Linked DNA regions of Homo sapiens. The protein of the gene in region 1 purifies or fractionates together with the protein of each later gene. This does not show direct contact. Each region holds a gene or a part of one and is shown in the gene's direction. Other genes may lie near its edges.

The links. Proteins that work in one complex are often made in the same cells at the same time.
Region 2: the proteins of ELSPBP1 (region 1) and OLIG1 purify together in Homo sapiens (affinity purification with western blotting, with the first as the bait; one study listed by BioGRID). This does not show direct contact.
Region 3: the proteins of ELSPBP1 (region 1) and CTBS purify together in Homo sapiens (affinity purification with mass spectrometry; one large-scale study listed by BioGRID and IntAct). This does not show direct contact.
Region 4: the proteins of ELSPBP1 (region 1) and METRNL purify together in Homo sapiens (affinity purification with mass spectrometry; one large-scale study listed by BioGRID and IntAct). This does not show direct contact.

What each region holds. Positions count from the first base shown.
Region 1 is NC_000019.10:48,001,132-48,004,631, forward strand, and holds part of ELSPBP1 (epididymal sperm-binding protein 1 precursor), read left to right. Parts: intron 1-3,500.
Region 2 is NC_000021.9:33,068,726-33,072,913, forward strand, and holds OLIG1 (oligodendrocyte transcription factor 1), read left to right. Parts: upstream 1-1,415; 5' UTR 1,416-1,521; coding exon 1,522-2,337; 3' UTR 2,338-3,688; downstream 3,689-4,188. UniProt on the Homo sapiens protein: Promotes formation and maturation of oligodendrocytes, especially within the brain. Cooperates with OLIG2 to establish the pMN domain of the embryonic neural tube.
Region 3 is NC_000001.11:84,571,641-84,575,901, reverse strand, and holds the start of CTBS (di-N-acetylchitobiase precursor), read left to right. Parts: upstream 1-1,461; 5' UTR 1,462-1,486; coding exon 1,487-1,663; intron 1,664-4,261. UniProt on the Homo sapiens protein: Involved in the degradation of asparagine-linked glycoproteins. Hydrolyze of N-acetyl-beta-D-glucosamine (1-4)N-acetylglucosamine chitobiose core from the reducing end of the bond, it requires prior cleavage by glycosylasparaginase.
Region 4 is NC_000017.11:83,078,305-83,082,408, forward strand, and holds the start of METRNL (meteorin-like protein isoform 1 precursor), read left to right. Parts: upstream 1-1,304; 5' UTR 1,305-1,511; coding exon 1,512-1,681; intron 1,682-2,841; exon of another isoform or gene 2,842-3,134; intron 3,135-3,630; exon of another isoform or gene 3,631-3,767; intron 3,768-4,104. UniProt on the Homo sapiens protein: Hormone induced following exercise or cold exposure that promotes energy expenditure. Induced either in the skeletal muscle after exercise or in adipose tissue following cold exposure and is present in the circulation.

The sequences.
Region 1 (3,500 bases):
CTGTTGTCACACCTGGTTTTCTGACTCTCCTGCCTCTCTCTCTGTTTTTTTTTTTTTTGACACAGAGTCTCGCTCTGTTGACAGGCTGGAGTGTGGTGGTGCAATCTTGGCTCACTGCAACCTCTAACTCCCTGGTTCAAGAGATTCTCCTGCCTCAGCCTCCTGAGTAGCTGGGATTACAGCTGAGTAGCTGGGATTACACCACACCCAGCTAATTTTTTTTTTTTTTGTAGTAGAGACGTGGTTTCACCATGTTGGCCAGCATGGTCTCAATCTCCTGACCTCATGATCCTTGTGATCCACCCGCCTCGGCATCCCACCACCTCTCTTTTATAAGGGCCCTTGTGATGACATTGGGTCCATCTGGGGAATCCCGGATCATCTTCCCATCTCAAGATCCTTAGCTTTATGACATCTGCAAAGTCTTCCACACTCCTTTTTTTGAGACAGGGTCTGGCTCTGTCACCCAGGCTGGATCATAGCTCACTGCAGCCTCAAAACCCTGGGTGCAAGTGATCCTCCTGCCTCAGCCTCTTGAGTAGACAGGACTACAGGCATGTGCCACCATGCTAGTTTTCTTTCTTTTTTTTTTTAAGATTGTTTGTAGATAGGGGTCTCACTGTGTTACCTAGGCTGATCTCGACCTCCTGGGCTCAACCAGTCCTCCCACCTCAGCCTCTCGAATAGCTAGGACTGCAGGCATGTGCCACCATGCTGGCTGTTTTTTTTTAATTTTAAGATTTTTTGTAGATACGAGGTCTCACTATGTTGCCCAGGCTGATCTCAAACTCCTGGGCTTGAGTGATCCTCCTGCGTCAGCTTCCTGAAGTGCTGGGATGACAATTATGAGTTACCATGACTGGCCCGCAAAATCCACTGTGCCATGCAACCTAGCATATTCGTGGACTCTAGGAATTAGGACGTGGACAGATTTGTGTTGGGTGGGTATTATTCTACCCACCAAGCGTCTATGAACGACACTAACATTCTGTAGCAGCAACAGTGATCACCATCCCTTCCACTGTGCGGATGAGGACTGAGACCCAGGAAACTCAGTACTTTGTTGGGGTCACAAAGGTAGTAAGAGGCAAAGCATGGAAACCCAGGTGGTTGGGCTCCAGGGCAGGCTCTTTCTGGCATTATAACCTTCTGCCTGTCTGGATCTTAGCATCTAAGCCAAAAATTATTCATTTGAATCTTGAGGAGAAGGGTCAAAATGAAAGCTTGAGGTTAATGAACCAATTAAGGTGTAGGAATTGGGGTTTTGGGCCAGGCAGGAATATAAGCATGACACTGCAGGTAGTCAAGGGTTTAGAGGAGGTGGCAAAATTTGTCTCTCCCCCATCTCCATAAATAGTAATTAAAACATCTCGCTTGGGCCGGGCGCAGTGGCTCATGCCTGTAATCCCAGCACTTTGGGAGGCCCAGGTAAGCAGATCACTTGGGGTCAGGAGTTCAAAACCAACCTGGCCAACACGGTGAAACCGTGTCTCTACTAAAAAGACAAAAAAATAGCTGAGCGTGATGGCTCGTGCCTGTAATCCCAGTGACTCAGGAGGCCGAGGCAAGAGAATTGCTTGAACCGGGGAGGCGGAGGTTGCAGTGAGCTAAGATCGTGCCACTGCACTCCAGCTTGGGGTGCAGAGCAAGACTTCATCTCAAAAACAAACAAAAATTCTGGCTTGTATGCTGTCTTCATAAATAGTAATGAAAATATCTGGCTTGTATGCCCCCTCTGACATTTACACAGTGCTTTCCAGCATCTGCTGCATGTATAAGATCCCAAGGTGGAGTTTATTCTCCCTCATTTGATGATTGGAAAAACTATCCCCATATTTTCCTGTGGTTTGACTCCATAGCCACAGCAACCCTTTTTCCGACCAGCCAAGAAACAGCAGCGGTGGCAGGATGCTGGTCCCAACCACCCCGGGGCTCAGGACAGAGGGTTCTCCAAGCATCTGAACCTGCCAGTGCCCAAAGCATAACTTGGTCCTCACCTGGATGTTCCAGACGAGACATGGGTGTCTGGCTATTAGGGCTTGTTTTACAGTTGAATAATTATTTTGAATGGCCCCTAAAATATTTTCTATGAATATCCATAACTTGGTCTGTGCAGAGTCATAAACCTTCCAGACCATCAGTTGCTACCAATTCTTCGAATTTGCACAGAACTCTTTATTGCACAAAGAAGCAAGCCATGCAAATAGCTGGGGTCAAGGGATCATCCCAGGCAAAGAGAAGAGCGAGTGCAAAGGCCTTGAGGTGGCTTCTGCAGGAAACAACTAAAAGGCAGATCGAGGGAGGGGAAGGAAGATAAGAAATGAGTTTGAGGGAAGGCACAGTATGGACTAGGGATTGTATTCTAAAGGTGATGGAGGATTTTGAATGAATAAATGCCACCCCTGCTCTTTTTTTTTTTTTTTTTGATGGAGTCTTGCTCTGTCACCCAGGCTGGAGTGCAGTGGCACGATCTCGGCTCACTGCAACCTCCGCCTCCTGGGTTCAAGTGATTCTCCTTCCTCAGCCTCCTGAGTAGCTGGGACTACAGGCACCTGCTACCACGCCCAGCTAATTTTTTTTTTTTTTGTATTTTTAGTAGAGATGGAGTTTCACCATGTTGGCCAGGCTGGTCTCGAACACCTGACCTCAGACGATCTGCCCACCTCATCCTCCCAAAGTGCTGGAATTATAGGCATGAGCTACCGTGTCCGGCCCACTCCTCCTCACTTTAACCCCTCCCGTGGCTTCTGGTTGCTTCTATTCTATTCTATTCTATTCTATTCTATTCTATTCTATTCTATTCTATTCTATTCTATTCTATTCTATTCTTTTGAGACAGTCTTCCTCTGTTGCCCAGGCTGGAGTGCAGTGGTATGATCTCGGCTCACAGCAACCTCTGCCTCCTGGGTTCAAGCGATTTTCCTGGCTCAGCCTCCCGAGTAGCTGGAATTACAGGCACGCACCATCATGTGGAGGGAATTTTTGTACTTTTAGTAGAGATGAGGTTTTACCATGTTGACCAGGCTGGTCATGAACTCCTGACCTCAGATGATCTGCCCGCCTCGGCCTCCCAAGGTGCTGGGATTACAGGCATGAGCCACCACACCTGGCCTTCTGGTTGCATTTAGAATCTGAGGGAGGCTCTACAGGGTCCGGTCCCATCCATCTCACCATGCATCTCTGTGGCCTTGCTCCTCCTCACTTGTTGTAGAGACGAGGTGTCACTGTGTGGCCCAGGCTGGTCTCAAACTCCTAAGCTTAAGCCATCCTCCTGCTCAGCCTCCCAAAACACTGGGATTATAGGCATGAGCCACTGTGCCCAGCCTGGGCCTTAGCCATGCGGGTCCCACTTGCTCCTTGAGCACATCTAGCTTTTTCCATCTCAGGCAGTTTCCACGTCGGCTTCTCCTGCCTGGATGTATCCCCCACCCCCATACCTCCAGCTCCTCTCACGTCTCCCTCCTCCATCTGTTCCTCCAGGTGTCAGCTTACCTGTCATT
Region 2 (4,188 bases), on another chromosome or scaffold:
CCAAGGCTTCCAGAAGAAAGCAAGGTTGGAGCTGAACCTGAGGCATAGGCAGGATGCTACAGGCAGAGCTGGGGGTCAGAAGCAAAGATCAGAGTGAACCCATGTGGCAAATATTGGTGGAAGAAAACCAGAACAAAGCAGCCCTGAAACCAGCAAGCACAGCCACCAAGATGCCCTCTTCCCCAGGACATTGACAAGTTATAGTAGCATGCACTGGTGCTGGGGGCAGAAAATGTCCATAGACACCAAGTAATGCTATTCTATTTGGCAAATAAAATGATTCATTCCCACCCTCAACCGATAGGACTATGTGGGTGTTTTGTTTTGTTTCTAATAAGAGGCCAATTTCTGAGTGACTTTTGCTTAAGCAAATGTCAAGTTGCTGATAGACCATCCCTTTCGGGGAGGATAGAAACCCGACCCAAAGGCTCCTTTGTCCCTAAAGACCTTTCAATCAGAGGGATGGGGAAGGAGGTTGGGAGCAGCAGGGAGGAAATATCCTAATGCTACTTGTCATTTAGTCCAGAAATTTAGCGACCTGAACCTGGCAGGAAATTATGTATTTTAAGAAAAAAAAAACATGATACACTCATGTTCATAGCAGCATAATTCGCAACAACCAAAAGCACCCCAAATGTCCATCAACGAATGAATGGATAAACCAAATGTGGTATATCCATATACTGGAATATTATTCAGCCTTGAAAAGGAAGAAACTTTGATACATGCTACAACATGGATAAACCTTGACGACAATATGCTAAGTGAAAGAAGCCAGTCACTAAAAGACAAGTGCTGTATGATTCTACTTATATGAGGGACCTAGAGTAGAACAAATTCATAGAGACAGAACAGAAGAGTGAATTCCAGGAACTTGGGTCGGGGGGAGTGGGGAGTTGTTTAATGGGTGGAGCTTCAGGGTTGCAAGTTGAAAAGAGTTCTGGAGATGGGTTGCACAACAATGTGAATTTAATTTAAATCAATTTAATGTGCACACTAATGCATATAACATTACTGAACAGTACTCTAAACATAAGACGGTAAATTTTATGTTATGAATATGTGATCACAGTTAAAAAAAAATATGAGGGAGGTTGTTTTTGAGTAGACAGTTGCTGGAGGAAGGCACGTGAGTTGCAGCCTGACCAGTGCGACCAGTCCTCCTTCAACAGCCCCGCTTGCCTTGAAAAGGCGCCCTTACTCCGCTCAGGGGGCCTGTCCCGCGCGGCTGGCACAGGCGCTCACAATAACCTCCTAAAGCGGTGCCAGCCGCACCTCCGCGCGGCCCCGGCACAAGCAGCCAATGAACACGCGGCTGCGCCCGGCCTCGCGCCTCCATTGGCTGCGCCCCGCCACCCGCTGCCCCGCAGGTTCCCAAGCCGGGTTTAAAGGGGTAGGGCGCGGGCCAGGGCCCCACCATCGTTTCCCCGCGCGCAGGTCCGCGGGGAGGGGCGGCCTGCCGACCGGCCCACCCCAGGGCGTTCCTGAAGGGCGTCCTCGGCCGCCCCCACCGCCTCCCAGATGTACTATGCGGTTTCCCAGGCGCGCGTGAACGCGGTCCCCGGGACCATGCTGCGGCCACAGCGGCCCGGAGACTTGCAGCTCGGGGCCTCCCTCTACGAGCTGGTGGGCTACAGGCAGCCGCCCTCCTCCTCCTCCTCCTCCACCTCCTCCACCTCCTCCACTTCCTCCTCCTCCACGACGGCCCCCCTCCTCCCCAAGGCTGCGCGCGAGAAGCCGGAGGCGCCGGCCGAGCCTCCAGGCCCCGGGCCCGGGTCAGGCGCGCACCCGGGCGGCAGCGCCCGGCCGGACGCCAAGGAGGAGCAGCAGCAGCAGCTGCGGCGCAAGATCAACAGCCGCGAGCGGAAGCGCATGCAGGACCTGAACCTGGCCATGGACGCCCTGCGCGAGGTCATCCTGCCCTACTCAGCGGCGCACTGCCAGGGCGCGCCCGGCCGCAAGCTCTCCAAGATAGCCACGCTGCTGCTCGCCCGCAACTACATCCTACTGCTGGGCAGCTCGCTGCAGGAGCTGCGCCGCGCGCTGGGCGAGGGCGCCGGGCCCGCCGCGCCGCGCCTGCTGCTGGCCGGGCTGCCCCTGCTCGCCGCCGCGCCCGGCTCCGTGCTGCTGGCGCCCGGCGCCGTAGGACCCCCCGACGCGCTGCGCCCCGCCAAGTACCTGTCGCTGGCGCTGGACGAGCCGCCGTGCGGCCAGTTCGCTCTCCCCGGCGGCGGCGCAGGCGGCCCCGGCCTCTGCACCTGCGCCGTGTGCAAGTTCCCGCACCTGGTCCCGGCCAGCCTGGGCCTGGCCGCCGTGCAGGCGCAATTCTCCAAGTGAGGGCGGGCCTGGGCCTGGGGCGCGACCTCGGCCCGGCCTCCCTTCGCTCAGCTTCTCCGCGCCCCTGCTCCCTGCGTCTGGGAGAGCGAGGCCGAGCAAGGAAAGCATTTCGAACCTTCCAGTCCAGAGGAAGGGACTGTCGGGCACCCCCTTCCCCGCCCCCACCCCTGGGACGTTAAAGTGACCAGAGCGGATGTTCGATGGCGCCTCGGGGCAGTTTGGGGTTCTGGGTCGGTTCCAGCGGCTTTAGGCAGAAAGTGCTCGCTCTCACCCAGCACATCTCTCTCCTTGTCCCTGGAGTTGCGCGCTTCGCGGGGCCGATGTAGAACTTAGGGCGCCTTGCCGTGGTTGGCGCGCCCCGGGTGCAGCGAGAGGCCATCCCCGAGCGCTACCTCCCCGGAGCGGAGCACGCCGGCTCCCAGTACTAGGGGCTGCGCTCGAGCAGTGGCGGGGGCGGAGGGGTGGTTCTTTTCCTTCTCCTCCGCCAGAGGCCACGGGCGCCCTTGTTCCCGCCGGCCAGGTCCTATCAAAGGAGGCTGCCGGAACTCAAGAGGCAGAAAAAGACCAGTTAGGCGGTGCAGACGGTCTGGGACGTGGCAGACGGACGGACCCTCGGCGGACAGGTGGTCGGCGTCGGGGTGCGGTGGGTAGGGGCGAGGACAACGCAGGGTGCGCTGGGTTGGGACGTGGGTCCACTTTTGTAGACCAGCTGTTTGGAGAGCTGTATTTAAGACTCGCGTATCCAGTGTTTTGTCGCAGAGAGTTTTCGCTCTTAAATCCTGGGGGTTTCTTAGAAAGCAACTTAGAACTCGAGATTCACCTTTCGTTTCCCTTTCCCCAAAAGTAGCGTAACCAACATTTAAGCTTGCTTAAAAACGAAAACCAACCGCCTTGCATCCAGTGTTCCCGATTTACTAAAATAGGTAACCAGGCGTCTCACAGTCGCCGTCCTGTCAAGAGCGCTAATGAACGTTCTCATTAACACGCAGGAGTACCGGGAGCCCTGAACCGCCCGCTGCTCGGCGGATCCCAGCTGCGGTGGCGACGGCGGGAAGGCGCTTTCCGCTGTTCCTCAGCGGGCCGGGCCCTTGACCAGCGCGGCCCGCAGGTCTTCCTTCTCGCCGTCTTGCAGTTGAAGAGCTACATACGTAGTCAGTTTCGATTTGTTACAGACGTTAACAAATTCCTTTACCCAAGGTTATGCTATGACCTTTCCGCAGTTTACTTTGATTTTCTATGTTTAAGGTTTTGGTTGTTGGTAGTAGCCGAATTTAACTGGCACTTTATTTTACTTCTAACCTTGTTTCCTGACGGTGTACAGAATCAACAAAATAAAACATTTAAAGTCTGATTTTTTACATTTTTTGTCTGATTTGTTTGGTAATAAAAAAGTCCTTGTATCCTAGTGGATTTAGAACCTTGGGGTGAAGGTAGGTAAATGACCGGGGTCCCAGGTTTTAAAATGTGACTTCCTGATTTGTAAAATAATCCAATGAACAGGCAACTGTAGTTCAAGTTCAGGCATTCGTGGGAAATATGAGGATTATAGGTAAGTGGGTGGGTGGGATAGAGAATGGGATAGAGAAGGGAGAGAGGCAATTCCAGGAATTCATTCTTTGCCAAGCTTCAGGCATAGGTCTTTTTTAACTACAACTTCATCCCCTGGAAAATGGGTTAAGCAATACCTTTATCATAAAATTGTAGCTCAACATCCTTCCAGGATATCCACCTTTTCTATATCCTTGGACAGAAGCTTAATACCACACAAGCATGAGCTTCCCGCTGCTGCACCCACCTACCCCTTATCATTTAAATCAGGTTGGAATTGTCTTCACCTAAGAGGTGAAGAAA
Region 3 (4,261 bases), on another chromosome or scaffold:
CACAATGTTGGCCAGGCTGGTCTCAAACTCCTGAGCTCAAGTGATCTGCCCACCTCGGCCTCCCACAGTGCCGGGATTACAAGCATGAACCACTGTGCCCAGCCCAAATTACTTATTTCTTCTTATTTGTACTACGCTGCTTCTCAAGCACCTTTAAGAATTATTTATTTCATCCCCTCTGTACTGCGTTTTCCAATTTTCTTATCTTTCAGAGTTTTTGCTCTACATTCCTCAGTGTTATCTTCTACTAATAGTTTTTTCACTTCTTTCTTATTTCTATTAACTTTTAAAAATCCCCTACCCCTTTTATTGCACCCTGTTGTGGCTTCATCTTCTCTTATTTTTCTGGGGCTATTATGAGAATTTTTAAAAGTGTTCTCCCTGCAGCATCTGCTTCCTCCATATTCCTTTGTCTGTTGTTTGGGTCCCTTCTTTCTACATTATTGGATTTTTTTGGTTGCTGTCCATGATTAAAAGTAAAAATTAAAAAGTACAAAGAGAGGAAGCTCCAAGTAGATAGCTGGTGCTTTTAACTTTGAATTTCACTGTAGGGTGATCTGGGTGTATGATTTGTCCAGAAAACCCGATGTCAGTATCTTTGCTCAGCCTCTTAGGTTAATCAGATAGCGAGGGGTTTCAGTTTTCAGTAGGCATAAAGCCACTTATTCTCCGTTTTAGGTGGAATACCCACTCAGCAGAGAATTTATCCCCTTCAGGGAATTCAGCCGGGGTGGGAGCCCGTGGTGGGAAAGAGGGGCAGCTGCCCAGAGACATGAAGCTGGAAAAAGGATCTAGCGATCAGAGTCCTTGAGCAGCCTTTGACTAATCTCCCCCTTTTCCGATTTACCTCTCATACTCATACTTGTGCTCTCCAGCTTCCAACATTTTGTTGCTGTTATCTCTTTGTCCTTGTGTTTAGGTTGTTAAACTTGATTTTTAACAGGAGAGTAGGCAAAATTAGATGCTTGAATTCAAACCACGATCTTAACTAAGACCTGATATCCGTAAGTAAAAATTTTTGGTATTCCAGCTTTCTTTTGAGTAGCAAAAGAAAAACAAAGTCTTTTGGCCACTCCAACCATGTTACTCAGTAGGCCCTTCCAAAGACACCCACTTCTCCATTTTGGGGATCCCCTTGTACCTTCAGACTCCACAAGGAGTACACGACCAGCCACGACAAAACGAGATGCAGACTATTGGGAGGACTATAAACGGTAGGGGTGATACCCATTTGAGTCCACGAACGGCCCTCTCGGCGCCGCAGACACTGGCTGTCCCCCGAGACGCTCCAGCAGCCACTTAACTTCACCCACCTGTAGCGCCCGGGGACGCTCGAAGCCCGACCTCCCACGCCCGCCCCGGAGCCCCGCCCCTCCCGCCCCTCCCCGCCCTTCCCGACTCTCCCCGCCCCTTCCTGCCCCGACGCGCAGCAGGCCCCGCCCACCCAGGCGGTAGGAACCCACTCCGGCCCGCTAGACCTGCTGCTATGTCCCGGCCGCAGCTTCGACGCTGGCGCCTCGTCTCTAGCCCGCCGAGCGGCGTCCCGGGTCTAGCGCTGCTGGCGCTGCTGGCGCTGCTGGCGCTGCGGCTCGCGGCCGGGACCGACTGCCCATGCCCGGAGCCTGAGCTCTGCCGCCCGATTCGCCACCATCCAGATTTCGAGGTCAGCGCCTTCCTCTGCTCCTCTAGGTCTGGGCTTCAGGGCACGAAGAGAAGTTAGGGTAGAACGGAGCCCTAAGGAGAGGTGCCGTGGGCGCCGAAACCAGCTTTGACCACTCGATGAGGGCCTTCCTGTTTACGGATCCTTCAATTTATAGATGAGGAAGCTCGGGCTCAGAGAAGTTGAGTAACTCCTCAGGCCTCACAGCCTGTAAGTGCCTGCGTAGGCAGGCGAGAGTTCAAACCAGATCTGCCTCCTAAGGCAAGCTCCTTTCATTCCCCTGCTGTGCCTCTGCGGAAGCACTCTGGGTGTAAAAAGCAAACAAGGTAGGATAATCCATTTATGTTTCCAAGGAACGAGGATTTCGTTTGAAAGAATCTCAGCACTCCAACAGTACATTAGAATGCAGAGTATTTTGCTTACCTTTAGTTTTCTATACCTGCTAGCCCTTTCCTTTAAAGTACCTCAAAACCACCCATGAAGAGTGGTAAAAAAAATAGCTTTCAGTACATTTTCCTTCTATCTACATAACAATTTGTAAGGCTTCTGGCAACTTTAATCAAACACCTTCTGGAGCAATATTAAAACCACCTGACTGCCCACTTCGATGACTGAAAGCAGGAATTGGATGACATCAGGAAGGTCCAAAGGCTTAATTCAAAGAACGATTCTTTTGTAGAAATAGGCATGATTCCTAGTTCTTAATCTAGTACATTAATCTGAGGCAGAACACTTAGATGCCAGTAAAAAAGTATATATACATGACTTAGGAGAAGAAATAAAAATGGTGAAAGTGTTTATGGAGAACCTGCCTAGTGTGGAAACCTAACATCTTATTAAAAGAAAGACTTCAGACAAAGTAGGATAACCTTTTTTATTTGAGCAAAGAACAACTTATGAATCGGCAGTACTTAAACCAGAAGGGGTTCAGAGAGGTCTGCTTTAGTAGCATGGGCTTTTATAGGCCGAACAGGGAAGCAAAGGAAAATAATTACTTGGTTGGCTATGACTGTTTGCCTTATTTAGCTATGACTTGGTGGAAAATTACTAGTTAGAGGTTAGTTGGCAGTTTCTGATAGGTTAAGCTTAAGTTTCCTTTCACTGTTGACCTTGGGCTGGAGTTTGCTTAAGCAGGAAATCCAAGGCAGTTGGAGCTGTTTCAGCATAATGGCCTCCCAATTAAAATGTTTTATACAATCTGAGGCCCAGCGCGGTGGTAGAGGCAGTGGGGACAGTAGCTGTAAAAGTTCAACCAGACATTTCTTAATTTTCTCAATCTCTTTTTGAGATTGAGAAGCACTTTGTGAGGCCAAGGTGGGTGGATCACTTGAGGTCAGGAATTCGAGAACAGCCTGGCCAACATGGTGAAACCCCGTCTCTACTAAAAATACAAAAATTAGCTGGGCGTGGTGGCGGGCACATGTAATCCGAACTACTTGGGAGGCTGAGGCAGGAGAACCGCTTGAACCTGGGAGGCGGAGCGGGAGGCGGAAGGTTGCAGTTAGCCAAGATCACGCCACTGCACTCCAGCCTGGGCGACAGAGCAAGACTATGTCTCAAAAAAGAGAAAAAAAAAAAACCTGAAAGATTTACTGTAGTACCCAATACTTAGTGGGTTAGGCAATATCTGTGGGCACTTTGAAAACCAACTATTCAAAGAAGCAAAATTATGCTTATTTGTATCTTCATGGTAAATGGTCTTTTTCTCTACTGGCGTTTTCTATGTTTTTCAAACACAAAAACTAGACTACATGGCATTTTCCCCTTATATTTTCAATTAGTTCACCCAGCTTTTTTTTTTTTTAAGGATATCTGTTATATCACAGGCTCTTAGTATTTTTTAAACAAATAGAATCTTAATTATCAGAACTAAAATAGAAGTTTTGATAGAAATATGAGTCAGAAAACAATGGGCCACTTAATTTCACATTATGAATTTTTATTATTTCAGTAGGCAATTGCTTAGCAGAAAAAATGAGTTATGCATAATTAATTCTGAAAAGTTAAAAAAAATTAAAAAAAATTAAGAAATGCCTGGTTTAACTTTTACAGCTGCTATCCCCACTGTCTCTCCCTCATTCATTCCCCTCACAAGGACCCAGTGATCTCTTTTGTAATGCATATCCCCTGAATTAAAACTCTAATTGATTCCCACTGATCCCAAGATAAAATACAACATCTTCAGTGGTCTTGGAAGTCCTACTTAATCTTTCCACTACCGACTTTAAAGGTTTTATCCAGTTCCACATACTTGCAGGATTTCTGTGCTCTACCTACATTGACCTTTTTCAGTTCCAGAATCTCAGAATTCTCCTGAGGTGTAGCGACCTTTGGGCTTTCCCTTCCCTCAGTTGAGAATGCAATCTTTTGTCCATAGGTATATCTCTTCCATCATTCTGCTGATTTCAGCCCACTCCGAAAGTGTGTAGTCCTCAGAAAAGTTTTCGTGCACCATCTGGCTAGCAGGTCCCCTTTATATGCTGGCGTGGCCCCCTGTAACCCCTACAGTCCTTAATACCATTGTAATTAAGTAGTTAACTCCTTACTGGACCTGGTCTCTCTCATTAATCTTTATCTCCTTAGAGCCTAGCAAAATACTCT
Region 4 (4,104 bases), on another chromosome or scaffold:
CTTCCGTCCCTGCAGACTCACAATTTTCAAAGCCCTCTCCCCGCCTCCTCTGGTAGTCACAACCCAGTTATTCAGACTTGCACAGGTCGTTCGCAAGTCCTCCTGGAAGGTATCTTGGCTGGAAAAGGGGACAAGGCCAAGCTTCCCCACCGCTGGATGCTGCGCTCGGCTCTGGAACTGACACCAGGCGTCTCGGGCAGGGCCACTGACCCGCAGCACACAGAAGCCAGCTTTGCCATCGCAGCGGGGACCGCCGGGCGGGCCAGCTCCGCCCTCTCCTGCCTGGGGGGCCCTCGGCACCCTCTGGCTCCCCTTCTCTGGCCTGAGTCTCTAGGGCCTCCCCAGTCCGGGCGGGGGTCTCCGCTGTCCCCCCCACTGGGTCAGGCACGTGGTGGCCGCGGTGACCACCTGGGGAAGGCGCCGACTCCGAGGAACACACTCGAGCAGGACGCTCCGCAGGTGATTCTGCCCCGCGGGCACGGGGTGGGGGCGGGATTTGGCCAAATCTGCAGAGAGTTTAGGTTGTCAAAGCTGGGGCGGGGGTTGCTACTGATACCCAGAGTGCGGGGGCCAGGGTGCTGCCAACATCCCACCATGCGCAGGACGTCCCCACCCCAAGAACCACCCGGCCCCGCGTATCCGGAGCGAGGAGTGGGCAGCGCTCGGCAGAGGCCCCGGCGCGGCGGCTGCACGTCCTCCGGGAGGAGGGAGGGAAGCCGGGCTCACCGCCGGGCCTCCCCCCCGGTCAGGAGGGAGCCGGGAACTCCCGAGGCACCAACTCTGCGGAACGCGGGGCGCCCGGATCGCCCCTGATCACCGCCCGCTGGCGAGGCGCGGGGGACCCAGAACCGGCGGGGCCGGGAGCCTCCTTTACCGCTCCGCGCCGGGGCTGCCCGCAGGATGGGGCGCAGGATGGGGCGCAGGATGCGGCCCCGGCACCGCCTCGCGGGGGTCTGCGGGGGGCGACCGCGGCTCGCGTCGGCCACTACTTGGGGGTCTCGGGTTTCCGCCCCGCCCTCGCCTTGCAACCCCTCCGGCCCCGGACTCCGCTTTCCAGGCCGGGCTCTTCCCTCCGGACCCCGCTCGCCGCCCGGCGCGGCCCCCTCCTCCTGCAGCGCCCCCCGCCCCGGCGCCCGCGCCCCCGATTCGCTGCTGACTCGGTGTCTGCGCGTCCGGCCGGGCGCCCCGGGAGGAGTTTCCGGCGCGGGGCGGGGTCGGGGGCGGGGTCGGGGGCGGGGCGGGGCGGCGGGTGGGCCCCACCCCCCAGCTGAGCCCGGCCGGGCGGACTCGGACTCGCCAACTTCAGAGGCTCGGCGGCGGCGGCGGGCGCGGAGCTCTGCGCGCGGCTCCAGCGGGCCGGGATGGGCGGGCGGCCGCGCGGAGGACGCGGGGGGCGCGCGACGTGACCACCCGGACTCGAAGCCCGCCCCGCCCCCGCCCGGCTCGCCGGCTCCGGGGTCTGCTCCGGGGGTCGCGGACGCGGGGCCGGGCGGCGGAGCCGGCGCCAGAGCATGCGGGGCGCGGCGCGGGCGGCCTGGGGGCGCGCGGGGCAGCCGTGGCCGCGACCCCCCGCCCCGGGCCCGCCCCCGCCGCCGCTCCCGCTGCTGCTCCTGCTCCTGGCCGGGCTGCTGGGCGGCGCGGGCGCGCAGTACTCCAGCGACCGGTGCAGCTGGAAGGGGAGGTGAGTGTGCGCGGCGCGACCCCGGCCCGGCCCCCTCCCCTCGCGTCCCCTCCCGTCCCGGGCCGGCCGAGCGTGCGGGGGCGCGGCCGGGGGCGGGCGCGGGGCAGGGGCTCCGGGGGCCGCTCTCCAGGCCCAGTCCGGTGCCCGCTGTCCCCCGCCCCCGGTTCTAGAACAAAAGAGCCCGCGGCGTCCCGGTTCCCGGCCCGGAGGACGCCCGGGGGAGGCGCGCCTGCAGCGCGGCCGGGTGGGTCCCGGCTCCGCGCGTGTCCGAGCCTCGGGGGCCGCCGGTCCCGCGACCCCATCCCGGGGGCAGGCGGGGGTCGGTCCTCGGGCCCTTCCTGGCAGGCTCCGGGAGTTGCGCGCCCCGAGGCCGCCCCGGGCCAGAGCGGGAAGGGACGGCCGCGGGAGGGAGCGGCGGTTTCGGGGATCGGGCGCGGACCGCAGCGGGGGCCACTTCCGTCTCGGGGAGCCGCGGGCGGGCACCTGTGAGCCGGGCCGAGTGTGGCTCCGGCCGGGCCCCCCGCCCCTGCCCCGTGAAGGTCAGGCCGCCCTTGGCCGCGGCGCGCGCTGCGCTGGGCGACCCCCCCCCCCCCCACCCGCGGTGGCGGCCGAGGACTTTTTTTTTTTTTTTTTTTTTTTGACTCAAGCGTGGCCGCCGAGAGCGGCGCCGACCGCGACTGCCCCTCGGGAGCCGCCGCCGCTCCCACGCGAAGCCCAGGGCGCCGAGGGCACCGCGGCCGAACCCGCCCTGCGCGAGCCTCGCAGTCGCCAGTTCCGGGGTTCGCAGATGCGCGGGGACCCGAGTGACGCGCGCCTCCCGGAGAGCCGTGGCCGGGCTGGCCCGGGCCTGGGTCCCGCTTCCCCTCGGCGCGGCCCCCGCCCCCGCCCCCGCCCCCGCCGCGGGCCGAGTCACGCGGTGATGTCGAGCGAAGCTGTTTTCCGAGAAGGTCGGGGCAGAGCCGGTGCGGGGCGGGTGGTGTCCGCGGGGCGGGCGCAGGTCTCCCCGCAGCCGCAGCCTCCGTTCCGGGTCCCCGCGAAGCCACAGTCGCCCCCCAGCGCCCCCGGCGGAGCCTCCCCGGGGGAAGGGGCGTGGCGCTGGGGGGCAGAGTCGCCCCGAGGGCCGTGGGCGGTGCCCGGCTGTCCCGGGAGCGGCCGCCTCCCTTCTCGGCCGAGCGGGGCCGCGGGCGGATGGAGGTCTGGGGGGGGTCGGCCGGGAACGCCGGCGCCGGGAGCCTCCGAGGCCGACGGCTCTTCTGGGGCCGCCCCTGCCCCCGCGGAGTGATTCAGCCCCGGCTCGCTGCCTCTGCCCGGCGGGTCGGTGCATCCCCGAACCGAGGCCCGGGGCGTTCCGCTCCAGCAGACCGAAGCCAGAAACGCCGCCCCCGCCACCCAGGCCGAGTGTGTCGAGAAGGGGCCGGCGCCCTTTTCAGGGTGTCAGGGGACTGTGTGCCCGGTAGGAGGGGGCGCCTCCCGGAGCCCGAAGGGAGGGCGCGGTAGGCAGCCGAGGGTGGCGGGGAGGCCACCCCTCCACCTCCAGGGGCGGGCGGCTCCTCCAGGCAGGTGACAGCAGCGGGACAGGAGTGCTTTGCCCTCCAGGACCTGCGCACCCTCCTGTCTACCTGGAGGCCCTCTTCGCCATCGTTGCCAGTCCTGGCCTCAGACTCCCCAGAGGGGACCCCCCCACACACACACACAGGGGACCCCCCCCAACACACACACACCTGCAGAGCCTGGCAGAGGGCAGCTGTGGGGGCTGCTGGAGCTGCGGGTGTGATCTGGAGGGGACACGGGGCCCGGCTGTGTTTCTGGGGCGTAAGTGAGACTTCCTTTTGTTGTGGTCACTGCCCCGTTGATCCACACACGTCACGAATCAGTGACAGAGACTCGCTGTGGAAACCGGAGTGCGCTGGCCTGCCTGCTACCCTCCGGTGTTTGTGACTTTTTACCAGCTGTCCTGACGAAGCACAGGGTGGAGCGAGCGCTGGTGTGCTGGGTGGATTCTCATCCCCCGATAGCTGGAAAGTTGCCCCTCATGACACTGGCCACTGCATCGACGGCCTCTGTTGCTGGGTGTTTCTTCTAAGCAGTTAAGTAGGAGATGATGAAACCTCCCTTCCGTGGGGGGAGGCGGGACCAGCGCCCCGTCTTTATCAGCCAGTGCTCATAAATGTGGACCATGAACTTTCCCACTTGCTGTCAGCCCGGGCATCGCAGGTGCGGTCACACCTGGTTCGTCTCTCCTGCAAGGTGGGGAAAGGAAAGTTAACCTGCCAGTGGGTTCGAAGCCCTTCCTGACTTTCATACAGGAGCCGGGCATTTTGTCCTGGTGACCCAGAGTTGTGGTGTGTGGGCTGGTGCCTCAACAACCCTCCAGTGCACCTGCGCCCCCCTTCAGTGAGTCCCTTTATCCACTTGGGATTTGC